2 separate regions of the Homo sapiens genome follow, and region 2 is linked to region 1. The links come from fine-mapping of genetic effects on gene expression. A gene starts in region 1. The other region holds a variant in brackets. All regions are shown on one strand. Distances are from middle to middle. Region 1 holds the start of ZMIZ2 (zinc finger MIZ-type containing 2). Region 2 overlaps ZMIZ2 (zinc finger MIZ-type containing 2).

Region 1 (8,324 bases):
CTACCCTACTATGACCCAGCAACTGCACTTGTACGCATTTATCTCAGAGAAATGAAAACTTATGTTCACATAAAAACCTGTACACAAATGTTTATAACTGCTTTATTTGCAAGAGCTATGGAATGGAAACAGCCCAGATGTCCTTCAATGGATGAAGAGTTAAATCAACGGTGGTACATCCATAGCCCGGATGCAATATAAAGGAATGAACTACTGATATATGCAACAACCTGGATGAATCTCCAGAGAATTAATGCTCGGTGGAAAAAGCCAATCCCAAGAGGCTACACGGTGTACGATTCCTTTATTTAGCATTCTTGACACACCAAAATTAGGGAAATGGAGAACAGATTGGTGATTGCCAGGGGTTAAATGTGGGGGTAAAGAGAAAGGTACTAATCTCTTCTCCATTTCTGTAATTTTGGCAGGAGGAAGGTGGGCGTGAATATAAGAAGGCAACAGGCTGGGCACGGTGGCTCACGCCTGTAATCCCAGCACTTTGGGAGGCTGAAGTGGGCAGATCATTTGAGGTCAGGAGTTCGAGACCAGCCTGGCCAACATGGTGAAACCCCAACTCTACTAAAAACATAAGAATTAGCTGGGCAAAAACTAACCGGGCGTAGTGGTGGGCGCCTGTAATCCCAGCTACTCAGGAGGCTGAGGCAGGAGAATCATTTGAACCCAGGAGGTGGAGGTTGCAGTGAGCCGATCGCACCATTGCACTCCAGCCTGGGCAGCAAGAGTGAAACTCCATCTCAAAAAAAAAAAATAGAAGGCAACAGGCTGTAACCTCTTTACTGTATCAGTGTAGTGTCCTGGTGCAATGTTGTACTAGTTTTCCAAGATGTTACCATTGGGGCAAACTGGGTAAAGGACAGAATAAATCTCTCTGTGTCATTTCTTATAATGCACATGAATCTTTAATTTTTTTTTTTTCTTTTTGAGATGGAATCTTGCTCTTTCACCGAGGCTGGAGTGCAGTGGCACGATCTAGGCTCACTGCAACCTCCACCTCCCAGGTTCAAGCGATTCTCCTGCCTCAGCCTCCTGAGTAACTGGACTACAGGTGTACACCACCATAGTCCATGCCTGGCTAATTTTTGTATTTTTAGTGGAGATGAAGTTTCGCCATGTTGGCCAGGCTGGTCTTGAACTCTTGACCTCAAGTGATCCACCCACCTCGGCCTCCCAAAGTGCTGGGATTAGAGGTGAGCACCACTGTGTCCAGCCAATAATTTCAAAATAAAAAGTTTAATTACAATACAACTGCTACCACCAGCCTTCTGTCTCCGCAGAACTGCTGTGACAATCTTTCCCCACTAGAAAGCTGGTTGGGTTGGCTGGCCACTTTGCTGTCCCAAGAACAGAGAGGGAATCTGGCAGGCAAGCAGATGTGCCCCCTCCCCCGCCCGTGGTCAAAGGCCTCAAAGTGCAGGCAGCACTCTGTGCAGCACTGCCTCATTTTAGGTCACCTAGGGCAGCAGCTCCCCAACTGCAGCACATCAAAACCAGCTCGCAGCTGGTGATGACAGGCTGCCCAGCCCCACCTGAAGTCAGTAGGATGGGCTGGGGCCTAAGCCCAGAATTTCTAACAAGTTTGCAGCTACTGCTGCTGCTGGTCCAGGAACTGTAGTTTGAGAACCTCAGATCTAGGAAATGCAGTGAGCTGGGGAGAAGGAGCACAGGGCAGGTACAAGGAGGGGAGGAGCCCACAGCAGGCTCCTATGTCACATGAGCCTGGGGAATTCCACCCCTGATGGTTCTCTGCTGTGGACAGAGACCACAAAGATTTCCAGTTCCCTCTGAGCTTACTCTTCACTGCACAGGGGGATTTCCTGCCGACCCGAACTCATGCCTCTGGTCTCCTCTCTGAGGACAGTCTCTCTGAAAAGACTTCCAGTCTCCAGGTCTGGTATCCTTGACCCTGTGCCCCTGATGATAGGATAGTGTTCTGCGTTGTGTGTGTGCAGATCCTCTTCTCATCTCCTGGCTTTGAGTCTGGGTTGGGAACAAGCCTGGAGCCTGGAATCTGGATCCCAGATCATGCAAGGCCCATGCCCACCAAGGGTCTTAGTGCCTGGCGCTTTCCTTGTAAACTAACTCCAGCTGGAAGCTAGGACCCCTTGAGAGATGGACAAGGTCAGTCTAGAGGGCCACAAGGCTTTCTCGGGGGTCAGATCACATCTTCCTCTAGACAGAGTTACAGAACTCACTACCCCAGACCTCTCTTCCCCAAATGTCCCAGAGTAGCTGCACCCCCAAGTCTCCTGGTTGACCTCCTGAGCCTTGTTCCATGCCACCTCTCTGCCTGCCTAGTCAGCTAGGAGCAGGACCAGCAAGTGGGCCCTGTGGCAGGCAACGCTTCTCAATAGGTCACACATCAGGACTCACTGTCTCCAAGATTGCAGGGTCAGGATCCAACCCAGGTGACAATGGAGTCAAAGGGTATTGAAGAAATGATGGCTGTGGAATGTTGCAGGAGCGGGGTCCTTGGTAGCAAAAAGTGGGGTACTCACATATACAGGTAGCTGAAAGTCCTGCCCCCTCTACCTGTAAGGCCACAGTACTAAAATGTCTAAGCGTGGGGCTAAGTCAGGATGCAGAGTTCATCAAAAAGTCCAGGAATAAGCAATGGCCCAGGCATGAGACATTTCAGTGAACAGCTGAAGGGACAACCTTAACCTGGCATCAGTTTACAATGTGTAAGATGGATATCTGGTAGCATCCTAGGACTGAGGACACATGACCACCTTCATGTCATCAGCCCTTGGGAGCTCAATCCCAATAATCAGGATGCTCCCCAAACATCTTAGGCCTGTCCTTCAGAAATCTACAACCGGCAACTGTCACCTGCTTGTTCTCTTCATTTACACTTCCAGCTTGTAACTATCCCCTGGGCATGACAAGGGCTAGAGGTCAGTACCTCTGGAAGTTAAGATTCCTTCACTTCTCCTGTTTCCACACTAAGCATCAAGGGATGCCCTCTGGTTCTAGCTTGCCAGAACTTGGTGGTGAGTCTGTGTCCATCCTATCCGTAATCACCACGGTCTCAGACCAAGTCACATGTTCCGTGTGTGTCCCTGTGAAATCTGCGATGACACAAATTAAAGACACCACCATGGATGTTCTGTAATACTGGAAAGAGGGTACCCTAGGGAGAAGGAGAGGCAGAACACTGCAGGGCAGAGGGTCCAGGGAATGGGAGGAGAGACACGGTAGGTGGAGGGGTAAACAAGGCACCGGGTGGGGGTGCCGCGGTGAAGGACACCTGGCACTAGGGAAGACAAGGCACCTCAGGGGAGCAGGGCATCCTCACGCCTGAGCTTCAGTATGTCCAGTTTGGAAAGGGGTGTCCCCATCAAAACTGGCAGCTGGGGGCTGGCCGCTCAGCGTCGTTCAGCCCAGGAGCGGAACAGCTCCTCCGCGAGCAGGTGACGGCCTCAGACGGCCCCCACATCGCCGTGCTGGTGGGCACGTAAGTAGGAGCGGAGGGGCGTACCATGTAGGTGAGACTGCCTGGCCCCAAAGCTAGGAACGATCAGGTTGGAGCGAAGGCCCGGCCAGCCTTCATCGCTCAGGAGAACCCCGAGCGCCGCTTACACCCCTCGGCCAGCCTCCAACAAAGACTCAGGGGAGGGCTGGATGACCCTGACGCCCACGGGGCCGAGCCTGCCCAAGACCACGACGCACGCGTGGCAGGTGCCGGCAGGTGGGCGGCAGAGCCTCTAGCCCCAGCCCAGCTGTGAACCCTACCGTGGCGCCGCAGCGGAACCGGGGCGCCCCGGGCGACCAGCTACACCTGCCTGCCCGCCCGCACCTGCCGGCCCGCACCTGCCGCACCTGCCTGCCCCCGCCGGCCCACACCTGCCTGCTGGCGGCGTTGCCAGGGGCCACCCCCAGGACCCCGCTCACCTCCGCCCGGCCTGGCCCGGCCCCTCGCCGTGGCGGCCCCCGGCCCGCGCCGCTCCATGCGCTCAGCCCGCCCTCCGCGCCGCCCGCCGCCCCGGGGCCGCCGCCACCCGCGCCATCGCGCCGCCGCCCGCTCCGAGGGCACAATGGAGCCGCCGCCGCGCCGCTCATGCATATGCATGACGCCGCGCAGCCGGCCCCGCCTCCCAGGCCAGAGCAGCAGAGCCCCGAGCCGGCGCTCGGGGCGGGGGCGGCCGCGAGCCCGAGCGGCCCAAAGCGGCAGGGTGGGGCCAGGGCCGCAGGTGGCTGGGCGGGCAGGAGACGCAGCCTGATCGCGACCTGCGCCCCCAGCCCCCTCCACACCTTTCTGAACGCGGCGTCGGCAGAGCCACTGCGCTCTTCCTGCTCGCAGTCCGCCGGGAGCGGGGCGGGGCCGGGCGGCGGAGGCGGGGCCAGGACGCCGGGGCGGGGCCGAGTGGAAGGCGGGGCCAAGGTGCCGGGGCGGGGTCGGGAGGAGGAGGCGGATCCAGAGAGCCGGGGTGGGGCCAGGGCTCGGGGCGGGCCCCGGCGGAGGAGGAAAGGAAGAGTGAGTCCTTGCCCTTCCCCCACCCGCCCCGCCCGCGCCCCGCCCGCGCCCCCCCTGCTTCCTGGGAGTCCATTGCTCTGGCCCGGCGGGCGGGGACACGACTGGGAGACAGAGAGACCCAGGGTGCCACTTTTGGGAGGGGATCTTATTAAAGGACTCCGGAAGCCCCTCGTTAAAGCAGAAAACTAAACTTAACAAGTTCGCTGTCCTCACTGCTCAGTTCTCTCTTCCCAGTGGTTCTCCTTCTGGAAAAAGTCACTATTGAGCTAGTCTAGCCTGATGGAATAGCCTCTCTGATCAGTTTCGATCTTTGAAATGCTATTATCAGCCTTTAAGTTATTCTTGACTTTTCCTACCGTAAGTTGAGGAAGACCACATTCTCTCAACTACCCATAATTAATTTTTCTTAATTGTGGTAAAATACACATAACGTAAAACTTACCATCTTAACTGTTTCCAAGTGTAGTTCTGTGGCACCAAGTACATTCACATTCTTGTGCAACCACCAACCGTCTCCAGGACTTTTTCATCTTCTCAAATGGAAACTCCATACCCAGTAAACACTAGCTCCCCATTCTTTCCTCCTCCTAGCCTTTGGCATTCACTATTCGTCTCTAAATTAGACTACTCTAAGGACATCGTATAAGTGGAATCATACATTATATGTCTTTTTGTGACAGTCTTACTTTAGTTAGCACAGTGTCCTCACTTCCATCCATGTTGTGGCATGTGTCAGAATTTCTTTCTTTCTTTCTTTCTTTCTTTCTTTCTTTCTTTCTTTCTTTCTTTCCTTTCTCTCTCTCTTTCTTTCTTTCTTTCTTTCCTTCCTTCTTTCCTTCCTTCTTCCCTCCCCTTCCCTTCCCTTCTTTTTTTTGACGGAGTCTCACTCTGTCGCCAGGCTGGAGTGCAGTGGTGCAATCTCGGCTCACTGCAACCTCCACCTCCCAGGTTCAAGCGATTCCCCTGCCTCAGCCTCCTGAGTAGCTGAGACTACAGGGGCACGCCACCACGCCTGGCTAATTTTTTTGTGTGTGTGTTTTAGTAGAGACGGGGTTCATCATGTTGGCCAGGATGGAATCGATCTCCTGACCTCGTGATCCGCCTGCCTGGGCCTCCCAAAGTGTTGGGATTACAGGCGTGAGCCACGGCGCCCAGCCCCTTCTTTCTTATGGCTGAATAATATTCCATTGTATGCATATTCCACATTTAAGTTATCCATTCATCTATCAATGGATACTCCACAATTAATTTTTGACATTGTTGAAATTTCTTCCCTGAAGGCCGCCTCTGAACTCTGTGCTCTATTTCTTTTGGGAATCATTCGTTCATTGAACAAATATGGCAGGCCTGCTGTACAACAGTCCCTGGTCTGGGGTCTGTGAACACTGGTCTGTCCCCAGGAACCAGGAGAATAAGGCCCCTCCATCCATACAGCAAGCATGTTAGAGGGGACAAACAGAAGGAAATGAGTTAACAGGTAACAGTGTGTCTGTCAGAAAGAGTGTTAGGAAGAAAACTAAATCAGGGCCAGAGAATGGGGAGGGAGTGATGAGGTATGAGGGACGGATTCTCTGTGGAGCTGGCCCTGAAGAAGAGACCCAAATGAAGGGGGAGGCAGGCACCAGGGGACCCTGACCATTCCTCTGTCTCGGAAGAGGCTGCATGTATGGGGGAGTTGCAGGCAGGTTTGTGGAGGATGCTGGAAGTGGCCACGCCAAGCATCCCAGGTGCCCCCAGGGCAGGCATCTCTCTCACCTCCTAACTGCTTCAATAATTCCTGCCCTGCTCCCCTGGGAAAGGCCACCTGGTGTCCACTCCTTTCTAGGGAATGTTTTCATTTTCTACTATATGATGAATTGTTAAGAAAGTCTTCCTTGAGGCCGGGCACAGTGGCTCACGCCTGTAATCCTAGCACTTTTGGAGGCCAAGATGGGTGGATCACCTGAGATCAGGAGTTCGAGACCAGCCTGGCCAACATGGTGAAACCCTGTCTCTACTAAAAAATACAAAAATTAGCCAGGCATGGTGGCGTGAAACCCTACTCTACTAAAAATACAAAAATTAGCCAGGTGTGGTGGCATGCACCTGTATTCCCAGCTATTCGGGAGGCGGAGGCAGGAGAATCGCTTGAACCCGAGAGGCAGAGGTTGCAGTGAGCTGAGATCGCACCACTGCACTCCACCGTGGGTGACAGAGCGAGACTCTATCCCCCCACCATCACCCCCCCAAAAAAAAAAGTTGCCTGGCGCGGTGGCTCACGCCTGTAATCCCAGCACTTTGGGAGGCCGAGGCAGGCAGATCACGTGAGGTCAGGAGTTCGAGACCAGCCTGGCCAACATGGTGAAACCCTGTCTCTACTAAAAGTACAAAAATTAGCCGGGCATGGTGGTGTGTACCTGTAGTCCCAGCTACTCGGGAGGCTGAGGCAGGAGAATTGCTGAACCCGGGAGGTGGAGGTTGCAGTGAGCCGAGATCACACCACTGCACTCCAGCCTGGACGACAGAGTGAGATTCTGTCTCAAAAAAAAAAAAAAAAGTCTTCCTCATTTACTAGAATAAAAAAACTGCCTTATTGAAGCTTTTCCTCTACAAGTGCATAAAATAAGAATCATCACTTTGTTATTTGACAGCTCTTCAAATATTAAAAGCAACTTCTCAATCCCCCAGTCTTCTGTTGGAGGAATAATGCTCCCAGTTCCTTAAGTGTTAACAGTAACACAATTTTCAGATCCTGTACCAACTGGCCACTCTCCTTTAGACAGGCACCAGTTAGACAATATCGCTTTTAAAATGTGACACCAGAAAGGGAACCTGATATCCTAAATGTAATCAGCCTAGCCCAGCGTCCAGGGGCTCCTGCGAGTCCACAGTCTCCTACAGTTGGTGTGGCCTTAACCTGAATTTGGTTTTTAACCAGTTTGGGTACCCCCAGTTACTATGACTCTTGACTTGCAAAACTAACTTTAAAAAGAAAAAGGTAGGCCGGGCGCAGTGGCTCACGCCTGTAATCCCAGCACTTTGGGAGGCCGAGGTGGGCGGATCACGAGGTCAGGAGATCGAGACCATCCTGGCTAACATGGTGAAACCCTGTCTCTACTAAAAATACAAAACATTAGCCAGGCATGGTGGCGGGCCCTGTAGCCACAGCTACCTGGGAGGCTGAGGCAGGAGAATGGCGTGAACCCAGGAGGTGGAGCTTGCAGTCAGCGAAGATCACGCCACTGCACTCCAGCCTGGGCGACAGAGCGAGACTCCATCTCAAAAAAAAAAAAAAAAGAGAAAGGTGCTGCTGCTCCTTTGCATACAAGCGGTATATTCTCATTGTGGAAAATACAGAGAAATGTTCAAAATACCTTAAAACTGTTCAGAGATAATTCCAGTCAATTGTTTGCTCTGTTTTTTTCCCAGATGGTTCTCTTTGCATATCTTGATGTTGTGGAGAATATGGCATATGTATGATTTTGCATTCTTATTTTTTCACATTATCAACATAAACATTTCCCTTACAAGCATTATCTGTGTTTCTCACAAAATAAATACTTCAAAGATTTATTTACAAGGATGTTTGCTGTGACATTAGGATATTGAAAAATTACACACAAGCTGTATTCATTCATTCAACAATTTTCTGTTGAGCTTCTACTGTGTGCCAGATACCACTCTCAGTGCTGGAAACATGGCAGTAAGTAAAACTGATGAAAATCTGCATTGTCGTGGAGCTTGTGTTAGCAAGCTAATAGTTACATCCTAGTAGGTAATAGTTAAGTAGAACGCACCCACAGGTTGGAAATCATGTTTTTGAAGAATATTTAATGGTATGAGCAGACAG
Region 2 (8,324 bases), 20 kb before region 1:
CGAGTACTGTAATCCCAGTACTCAGGAGGCCGAGTACTGTAATCCCAGTACTCAGGAGGCTGATTCGCTTGAATCCAGGAGGCGAAGGTTGCAGTGAGCCGAGATCGCGTCACTGCACTCCCACCTGGAGGACAGAGTGAGACTCTGCTTAAAAAAAAAAAATTAGCCAGGCGTGGTGGTGTAAGCCTGTGGCCCCAGCCACCTGGGAGGCTGAGATGAGAGGAGTGCTTATGCCCTGGAGGTCAACGCTGCAGTGAGCTGTGATTGCACCACTGCACTCCACCTGACAGAGTGACACCCCCCCATCTCTAAAAAATAAAAAAAAAAAAGTGGGAAGAACAATCACACCACGGTTTAACTGATCAGCTACGATGGGAACTGTGAAAGGCATTCCACAGAGTGAATCAAGGCTTCAGGAGGAGGCCCTGACTTATCCTGGAGGCAGAGGGTTCTCCCAGGAATGGCGTCTTAGCTGAAGCCTGACCCAGAAGGTAGACGGGCAGGAACGAGGTAATGTGGAGACTGTTGGGAGCAGGCAAGGACTTCATCCCAAGGCAATGGGAGGCCCTCTGTACTCCCTCTTGTGATAACTGCTTCCCTTCTTTCGGGCAGTGCTCCTGACCCCACTCTAGCTGTGTGGGTGGGTCCCTACCTGGTTGAGTCAACCAGATCCCATCCCTGGGATTTTAAACTTGGAACCAGAAGGAGAGTGATCATCACCTCTTTTCTAGGGTGAATCAATGAGAAGTGAGGCTCCGAAGCTTGGATCTCAAGTTCACAGAAGCAGCTGGTTGAGGGTGAAGCTTGCACACAGAGGCCAAGGAAGGATGCCTACCCATGTCCAGCTGCCCCAGGGCCCTTTCAGGACTGCTATTTTGAGCCCCTTCCTTCCTTAACTGGTTTGAATTGGTCACCGTCACTTGCAACCTATTGAGTCCTAGCTAATGTACCATGACAGGGTTCAAGACTTGGTCAGAGAAGAGCTGGGGTATAGGATGCTGGGGAAGGGTACCCATTAATCCTCCCTTCTAAGTGGTAACTGAGAGAATGAACAAGAACAATATACAGTTAAATGAAAATAAAAAGGCACAGTGGCTCAAGCCTATAATCCCAGCACTTTGGGAGGCCGAGGCAGGCAGATCACAAGGTCAGGAGTTCGAGACCAGCCTAACCAACATGGTGAAACCCCATCTCTACTAAAATTACAAGAATTAGCCAGGCGTGATGGCGCGCCACCTGTAATCCCAGCTGCTCAGGAGGCTGAGCAGGAGAATCACTTGAACCCGGGAGGCGGAAGTTGCAGTGAGCTGAGATCATGCCACTGCACTCCAGCCTGGGCGACAGAGCAAGACTCCGTCTTAAAAAAAAAAAAAAAGAAAATAAACACAGACGCTTTAAGGATCAGTTAACAACAAGACACAGACTCTAATATTCACTGACATAAAGTTTCAGAAAGGGCAAAATTAATCTCTGGTGACAGGGGCCAGAACAGTGATGACCTGGGGTGGGGTGTGGGTTGGTCTCTCCTGTGAGGTTTGGAAGGGCAGGTACACACGCGTGTGCACTTACCAAAACCTACTGCACTGTGCATCCGACTGCACTGATGTCCCTGGCTTCTTTGAGGCAACTTGGGTGACAGGCCATCCTGAGCCAGTCATGTCTTGCCCTCCCACTCAGGGCAGGCAGGATGGGCTGTCTCAATGGCCCCCAAAGCCTGGAAGGCTGGAAGGGTGGCAAGGAGGAAACCCACAGTGGGTAGAGTTACAGGGGTCAGAAGTGGGGGCCACTGCCTGCTGGGGAAGGCCACTGGAGGAAGCTGGGGCAGAATGGGAGGGAAGCTGGCCCCTCACATGAATACGGGGAATTAGGAAGTGTTTTCTCCTCCACAATGTTTGGGAGAATTTGGGGATTTATGTCCATTCTTTAGCATTTGGTAGAATTCACCATCTGGTCCTGGGCTTTTCTTTTGTTGGGAAGCTTTTGATGACTGGTTCTACCTATGTGTTTTAGGTTGGTTCAGATTTTTTCCTTTTTCTTCTTTTTTTGAGGTCAGGTCTCTGTCTCTGCCTCATTCCTGGCTGGAGTGCAGTGGTGCTGTCATAGGTCGTTGCAGCTTTGAACTCCTGGGCTCTAGCTATCCTCCTGCTTCAGCCTCCCAAGTAGCTGGGGCTACAGGCACGTGCCATGACACCTGGTTGATTTCTAAAGATTTTGTCGAGGCAGGGTCTCTGTTGCCCAGGCTGGTCTCGAACTCCTGGCCTCAGGCCATCCTCCTAACTAGTTCTCCCCAAGTGCTGGGATCACAGGTGTGAGCCACTGCACCTGGCCCTGTTCAGATTTTCTATTTTTCCTGGGACAATTTTGGTCATTTGTATCTTTCTAGGAATTTTTTTGTTGTTGTTTTGAGACAGAGTCTCACTCTGTCACCCAAGCTGGAGTGCAATGGCATGATCTCAGCTCACTGCAACCTCTGCCTCCTGGGTTCAAGTGATTTTCCTGCCTCAGCCTCGTGAATAGCTGGGATTACAGGTGTGAGCCACCACGCCTGGCTAATTTTTGTGTTTTTAGTAGAGACAGGGTTTCACCACTTTGGCCAGGTTGGTCTCGAACTTCTGACCTCAGGTGATCTGCCTGCCTCGGCCTCCCAAAGTGCCGCGATTACAGGCGTGAGCCACCACACCCAGCCAAGATGTCGCATCTTTTTAAATGTTGGCATTTGCAGCTATAAATTTCCCTCAGAGCAGTTTTTGCCGCATTCCTTAAGTTCTGGTATGTTGTTTTCATCCATCTCTATTTCCTAATTTTTCTCGTGATTTCTCCTTTGACCCTTTGGCTGTTAAAAAGTGTGTTCAATTTCTATGTATGTGTGAATTTTCATTTTCCTTCTGGTATGGATTTCTGGTTTTATTCCATTGTGATTGGAGAAGGTGGTTTGCAGGATTCCGATCTCTAATTTACTGAGACTTGCTTTGTGCACTAACGTGTGGTCTGTCCTGGAGAACGTTCCCTGTGCACTTAGAAACGTGTGTTCTGCTGCTATTGGGTGGAGCACTGTTAAGTCTGGTCAGCCTTTTGGTTTTTATGTAATACTTGGCACATTCACAAGAAAATGTGTGAAACAGAAAGTACGACAAAGTGAAACCCACGAAGCCACCACTGACCCTGAGGTTCAAAACCTCCAGCATCTCTGCTCTTCCCTAAGCACAGCTCCGTCCCCTCCCCACGGGTGAGCACTGTGTTGTACTGACTCCC[T/C]GCCCTCCCTGATGACTTTAGCACCTGGGTATGAATTCCACACATATTTGGTTTTGAGCTTTATAAAAATGGCATCATACTGTATGAACTGTCTTGCTTTTTCATCCCACGTTGTTTCTGAGAGGTGTTTGTGATGGAGCACAGGGCCACGGTGCCCATGCATTCCTCAATCATTTCTCCAGTCTTCTGAGGATGGGCTTCTGGGTTGTTTGCAGCCTTTTGCTTGTCCCAGTCTCCTAGTTTCTCCACTCCATCCGGGAGCATCACGTTTGCAACAGGCAGGGCAGGTGGTGCATCAGATGTCCAGGACACAGTCATTTGACACCCAAGAAAGGAGGGCCTGGGGCCTGCATCAGGCCATGGCTGAGTGGGACTTTGCCAGGCTGTCTCCGCACCCAGCGACAGGACTGTGCGTGCTGCTGCTTCTTTTGTTTCCTCCACTTCTGTTCCCTCATCCAGAGAGGGCGGAAGAGCTGGAAACAGAGGCTTTGTCAGGGAATAAGGAAGCCCACCTGTGTGGTCCCAAATGTCGCAGGGGCAACGCTCACACCAGATACCTCCCTCCTCCTCCTCCCTGCAGCCTCTGGGCTCCCACAGACAGATGCCCTCCTCTAGTGCCTCCAGGGGCAGGCCTTGGCCGCCAGCCTGAGGATGCCCAGCGCTCCCCTCCTCCCCTAGGTTCCTGTGTTCCCCCAGTTCTTGCCTCTCCTGCTGGCTGGCTGGGAAGGCCCTCAAGGATGGGGCCCAGGACTGGAGGAAATGGTGACCCGGACCCCCACCAAGCTGGACAGGCAGATGGTAGGCAGGACACACCTCTGCAATCTCTGGGAAGTGACAAGCAGAGGCCTCCCAGGGACAAGAGCTGAGAAGGATGAGCCCCTGGCTGGGCTGGGGCTGCCAAACAACTGTCTCAGTGCCCCAGGGCAAGCCCAGATAAGGTGACATAGTGGCAAATGTCTCTCCTGGGCAAGCCTGGGATGCTTCACAAAACAGCTCTTCAGCTGAAGCCAACTTGGAAAATTCCAGGGAAAAGGAAATTTACTATGGGGCGGGAATAGCCGAGCCTTGGCTTGAAACATCCAGAGCTCAACCTGGGGCCCCAAAAGCCACTTGAAGGTCGACCTGGCCCCCAGGTCCTGCACAAGCTTTGCAGGCACAGCCCAAGCTTTAGGCAGGTCGCTGGCTTACGAGGAGAAAATAGTCCCTGGGAGCACAAAGGAGGGACTCGGCCAGGCCCACCAAGAGGGAGTCCTTTAATAGAGATCGGCACAGACAGGAGACACAACAGCCCAGGCGCCCTGCTCGCACAGGCTGGGGCCCTGAGCCAACAGATGCAGTGGCTTCCTCCTCCCCCACCTGGGTGTGGGCCCATGGGGTGGAGACAGAGAGGTGGCTTTAAAAAACACAGCTGTACTAATTCTTCACTTTCACAGAGAAGGGGAACTTGGGAGCGCAGCCCGCTAGAGAATCTTTACACAGAGCTGAATCTGAGAGCCCACCCACCCACCTCGGCCAGGCCGAAGCTCACTGTCCCCCACCCATTGGAGGTTCCTCCCTGATCTGTCTGCACATGGGAAGGAGCAGAGCGCGCAGGGAGACCGGGCTGTACAACAGGAACATGCTGGCTGGACAGCTGGCTCCCCTCTCCCAGCTGTTAGTGTTTCTACACTATGTACATTGTTGTGCTTTGTAGCTCCCCCACCCCGAGGCCTCTGCTTGAAGCTGGGGTGGGGAGAGGAACCTGACACCACACACGGCTGGGCTGCCAGAGCTCCAGGCCCCCAAGAGGCTGCCATTCAGCGAGGTTCCAAGAGCTGGACTGCTGGGCACAGGGGCCACTGGAGCCAAAGGCCCAGGGGACAGAGCCAGCCCTGCCAGATGCCCAGCTCTGCCCAGTGGAGGAGTTGTTGAAACAGAAGGATCAATGCTGGACAAGAAGCAGGCTGGGTGGGGGCAGGCAGGGGTGGAAGGACAAGGTGTGAGGCTGTGAGACCAGGGGCGTGAGATGTGTGTGTGGACAAGGCTGGACAGGGCTGGGCAGGGGCACCTCAGCAAAAACCGTTCTGCAGCAGCAGGCTTGGCAGAGGGAGGTGGCAAGGGCTGCCGGCCTGGGAGCCCCTCCCATCGAGCACAGGGCTGCTTCCAATTCAGGGGCAGGGCTGGCGGCAGAAGGCTCTGGCTCCAGGTGTGTTTTGGGGGAGGTTTGGGAAAGACCACCGGGTGTCCCATGGGGCTGGGCATGAAGGGCAGGGCTGTGGTGACATCTGTGAGCGTGTCCCCGCCGGGCTTGGGGTAAACACAGGATCAGTTGTTCTCAAACAGAGAAAGCAGGTCGTCATTGTTGTTCGTAGGGAGGTCGGGTGGGCCCAAGTAGGACAGTAGCTCATCAGGGTTGGTCAGTTCCGGGAGCAGCTGAGGACAAAGTGAACTCTGTTAGCAGCTTTGGTCACTGACTGGCCACACCTGAGTGACCATCCTGTCACCACATCCCGGCCCTGTCTCCAGGCACAGTGGGGATGCTGAGCAGCCCCTCCTCACACACAGGCCGGGTGCGGGGCCCCACCATAGGCCTGCATGTGCTCAAAGAGGCACACGCCACCCCCTGGGACCTCCCTGCAAGGTTGCTCTGGGGCCAGAACAGCTGGCAACATGCTGTTCAATACCACCAGGAAACGGGATGTGAGGGAGTGCAGCCACTCCACACTCCCTCTGTGCATCAGCCTGCGTGGGGATCCCCACCGTGATGCCCCAAGGTGAATGCTGGTGGTGGAATTCCATGCCCCTAGGATTTTCTGCTTGGAGCTGTTCTTCCTAACTTTTTCATGTTGAACTTCTAGAATGAGTTTCATGTTGAACTTCTAGAATGAGTTTCTATTATGGTCCAGGGACAGTCAGTTCTGTCCTTCATGTACTGAGTTTGCACTCCCATTCCACCTGTGAGTCAAGACCCAGGGCTACTGAGCAAATGGACAGACGAAATTTGACTCTAAGGACCGTGCTGTCAGCTTCCAGTGCAGTCTCCTCTGAGACTCTGCGTCCGCCCGTACGGCATCCAGGCCCCTCATGAACACAAATGTGGTACATCGCATCCCACCCGCAGCTACTCCAGGTATCTAATTCATGAACAAAAGCTGCATTTAGTTGACCTTATCTGACCGGCTCTCTGAGGGGTCACTGTCTTCCCTTCCAGAACGCACCTGGAACAGACACACCACCTCTAGCCCTGGCTCCCACGCACTCCCCCGCATGGGGCCTGGTACTCACGTCCAGAGCTGGTTCTGGGGCCTCCCCGGCTCCAGACATGCTGGGGGGCCCCATCACGCCTGTGGCAGGACTGAAGGCCAGTTCACCCGTAGGTCCTAAGCTCGCTTGGCCCAAGGACTGCCGGGACGCTGGGGGAGGGTTTGAATGGTGCAGCTGGGGACCTGGAGGGGCCCCAAGGTTGGAGGTGTGTAGTCCTGGTGTCCCAGGATTGTGAGTGGGGTCCAGGTGACCTGCTGGTGCCATCTGAAGACAGAGAGAAGAATTTGTTAAAACAGCTCAGGGGCTCCCCTGGGGAGACAGGGCCCCTTGGCCTCTCGGCTTGGCACTGACCTGGCTTGGGAGGCAGGCGGTAGACTTCTCTGAAGTCAGGAGGCTGCTGGGAATGTCAGACTGGTAGGAGATGGGGGGTGGTCCCGGGGTGAACTCAGCAAGGGTTGGGGTGCTGGGCGTGGTGGGTGGGAAGGACTCAGGGAAAGTTCCAGGCCCCAGGAAGCTGGAACCTGTGAGAGGAGAGTCGGGGCCTGGGTGAGGGCTGGGGAAGGCCACCGCTGGCAGAGGAGCCAGGAGGGAGGCTGGCTGTGGCATGGGTGGGACTTGCAGTGCTCACCCACAAACAACAGCGGGTTTTGCAGAAGTCGCTATTTGGAAAAGGGCATTTCTTCTCATTGCTGCCAAGGGAATTGGCCTTGGGACATTCCTAGGAGTGAAGGTCTCGGAGGTTATAGGAATGGGAGCAGCCACAAACAAACGCACCACGCGTGTGAGGTGGGTCCCAGAGGGGGGCCCCAGATGGGGCCAGTCCTGTGAGGTGTTCCAGCCAGGAGCCCCTTAATCCAAACGGGGAAGGAAGGGTGGAGGCCCCACTGTCTGTTTCCTGGGACCATAGCTGAGACTGTGCCTTCACCGCCACGTCCCTGAGATGGGAGGGGCTGGAGGTGCCCCGCGGCATGTTTTGTGTGGCAACACTGATAACCTAGGTGTGTGACCTGCATAGCCACATTCTTGCAGGTGAGGAGACTGATCTGGGGAGAGGAGCCATATGCCCAGGGTCATCTGAGGTTCAAGGCTAGCCTGCTGTACTTACCCTGGCCAGGGTAGTCGCTGGGGGCAGGGACTGAGGGGGGCTGCAGGGGGGCAAAGGGGGCAGCGCCGGGGCCCAGGGCGGCGATCATCTCCATCACGCTGGGCATGAGCACGTGGGCGGGGCTCACGGTGCGGCAGCGCTTCAGTGCTGGCCCATCCGGCTCCTCCTTGATGTGCATGTCAGGCTTCACGGGCACTGGCTTCCAGCTGCACGTGGGGTCGATGGTGATCTCCTCATAGTCAGAGCTGGGCAGGGACAGGTGGGGAATGGTTACCTCCTGGCCTGCTGCTGGCCCGGCACCCACTGCCCCTCCCAGCCCTGGGCTGTTTCCAGGCAGGTTCCCCCACTCAAATGCTTGCTTCCACCCAGCACCTTCCACATCGAGCAGGACGCTGGGCCCAGCACCAACACTCAGGTAGGACACACACGCTGTCTCTGGCCTGGAATCCAGCCTGCTCCATGCCGGAAAAAGGCTGGAAGGCTGCACTTGGCAAGGGACATCCCCCGACATGTCCTGGGGCTGCCCTCCAGTGGCCACAGATGCAGGGATCACAGGAAGAGGATGCTTACTTCTGAATGTAAATCAGGATGCCCAGCATGTACTGGTCCACCTCCAGGCCCTCCAGCAAAGCTGTCTTGCTGTGGGGAAAAAAAGGGACACAGCTCAGAGACCTTGCACAACCCTGTCCTGGGCACAGGCCCTGTCATTTCTCAGCCCTGTCAG

Evidence for each region.
Region 2: its variant is fine-mapped to the expression of ZMIZ2 in whole blood (TOPMed, PIP above 0.99).

Annotation. Positions count from the first base shown.
Region 1 is chr7:44,744,580-44,752,903 of GRCh38, reverse strand. ZMIZ2 (zinc finger MIZ-type containing 2) reads right to left here and starts at 4,057. Exons shown (of 19, transcript NM_031449.4): 1 at 3,913-4,057. RefSeq lists an enhancer at 1,503-1,972 and silencers at 3,753-3,802, 3,813-3,922, 4,033-4,562.
Region 2 is chr7:44,764,856-44,773,179 of GRCh38, reverse strand. It overlaps ZMIZ2 (zinc finger MIZ-type containing 2), which reads right to left. Exons shown (of 19, transcript NM_031449.4): 15 at 8,171-8,239; 16 at 7,601-7,845; 17 at 6,847-7,016; 18 at 6,517-6,759; 19 at 3,299-5,664. The coding sequence ends at 5,557. Among named protein-coding and RNA genes, the nearest start is that of ZMIZ2, 20 kb to the right of the region's middle. RefSeq lists enhancers at 4,696-4,835, 4,670-5,196. The variant T/C (reference allele first, on the strand shown) is at 3,253.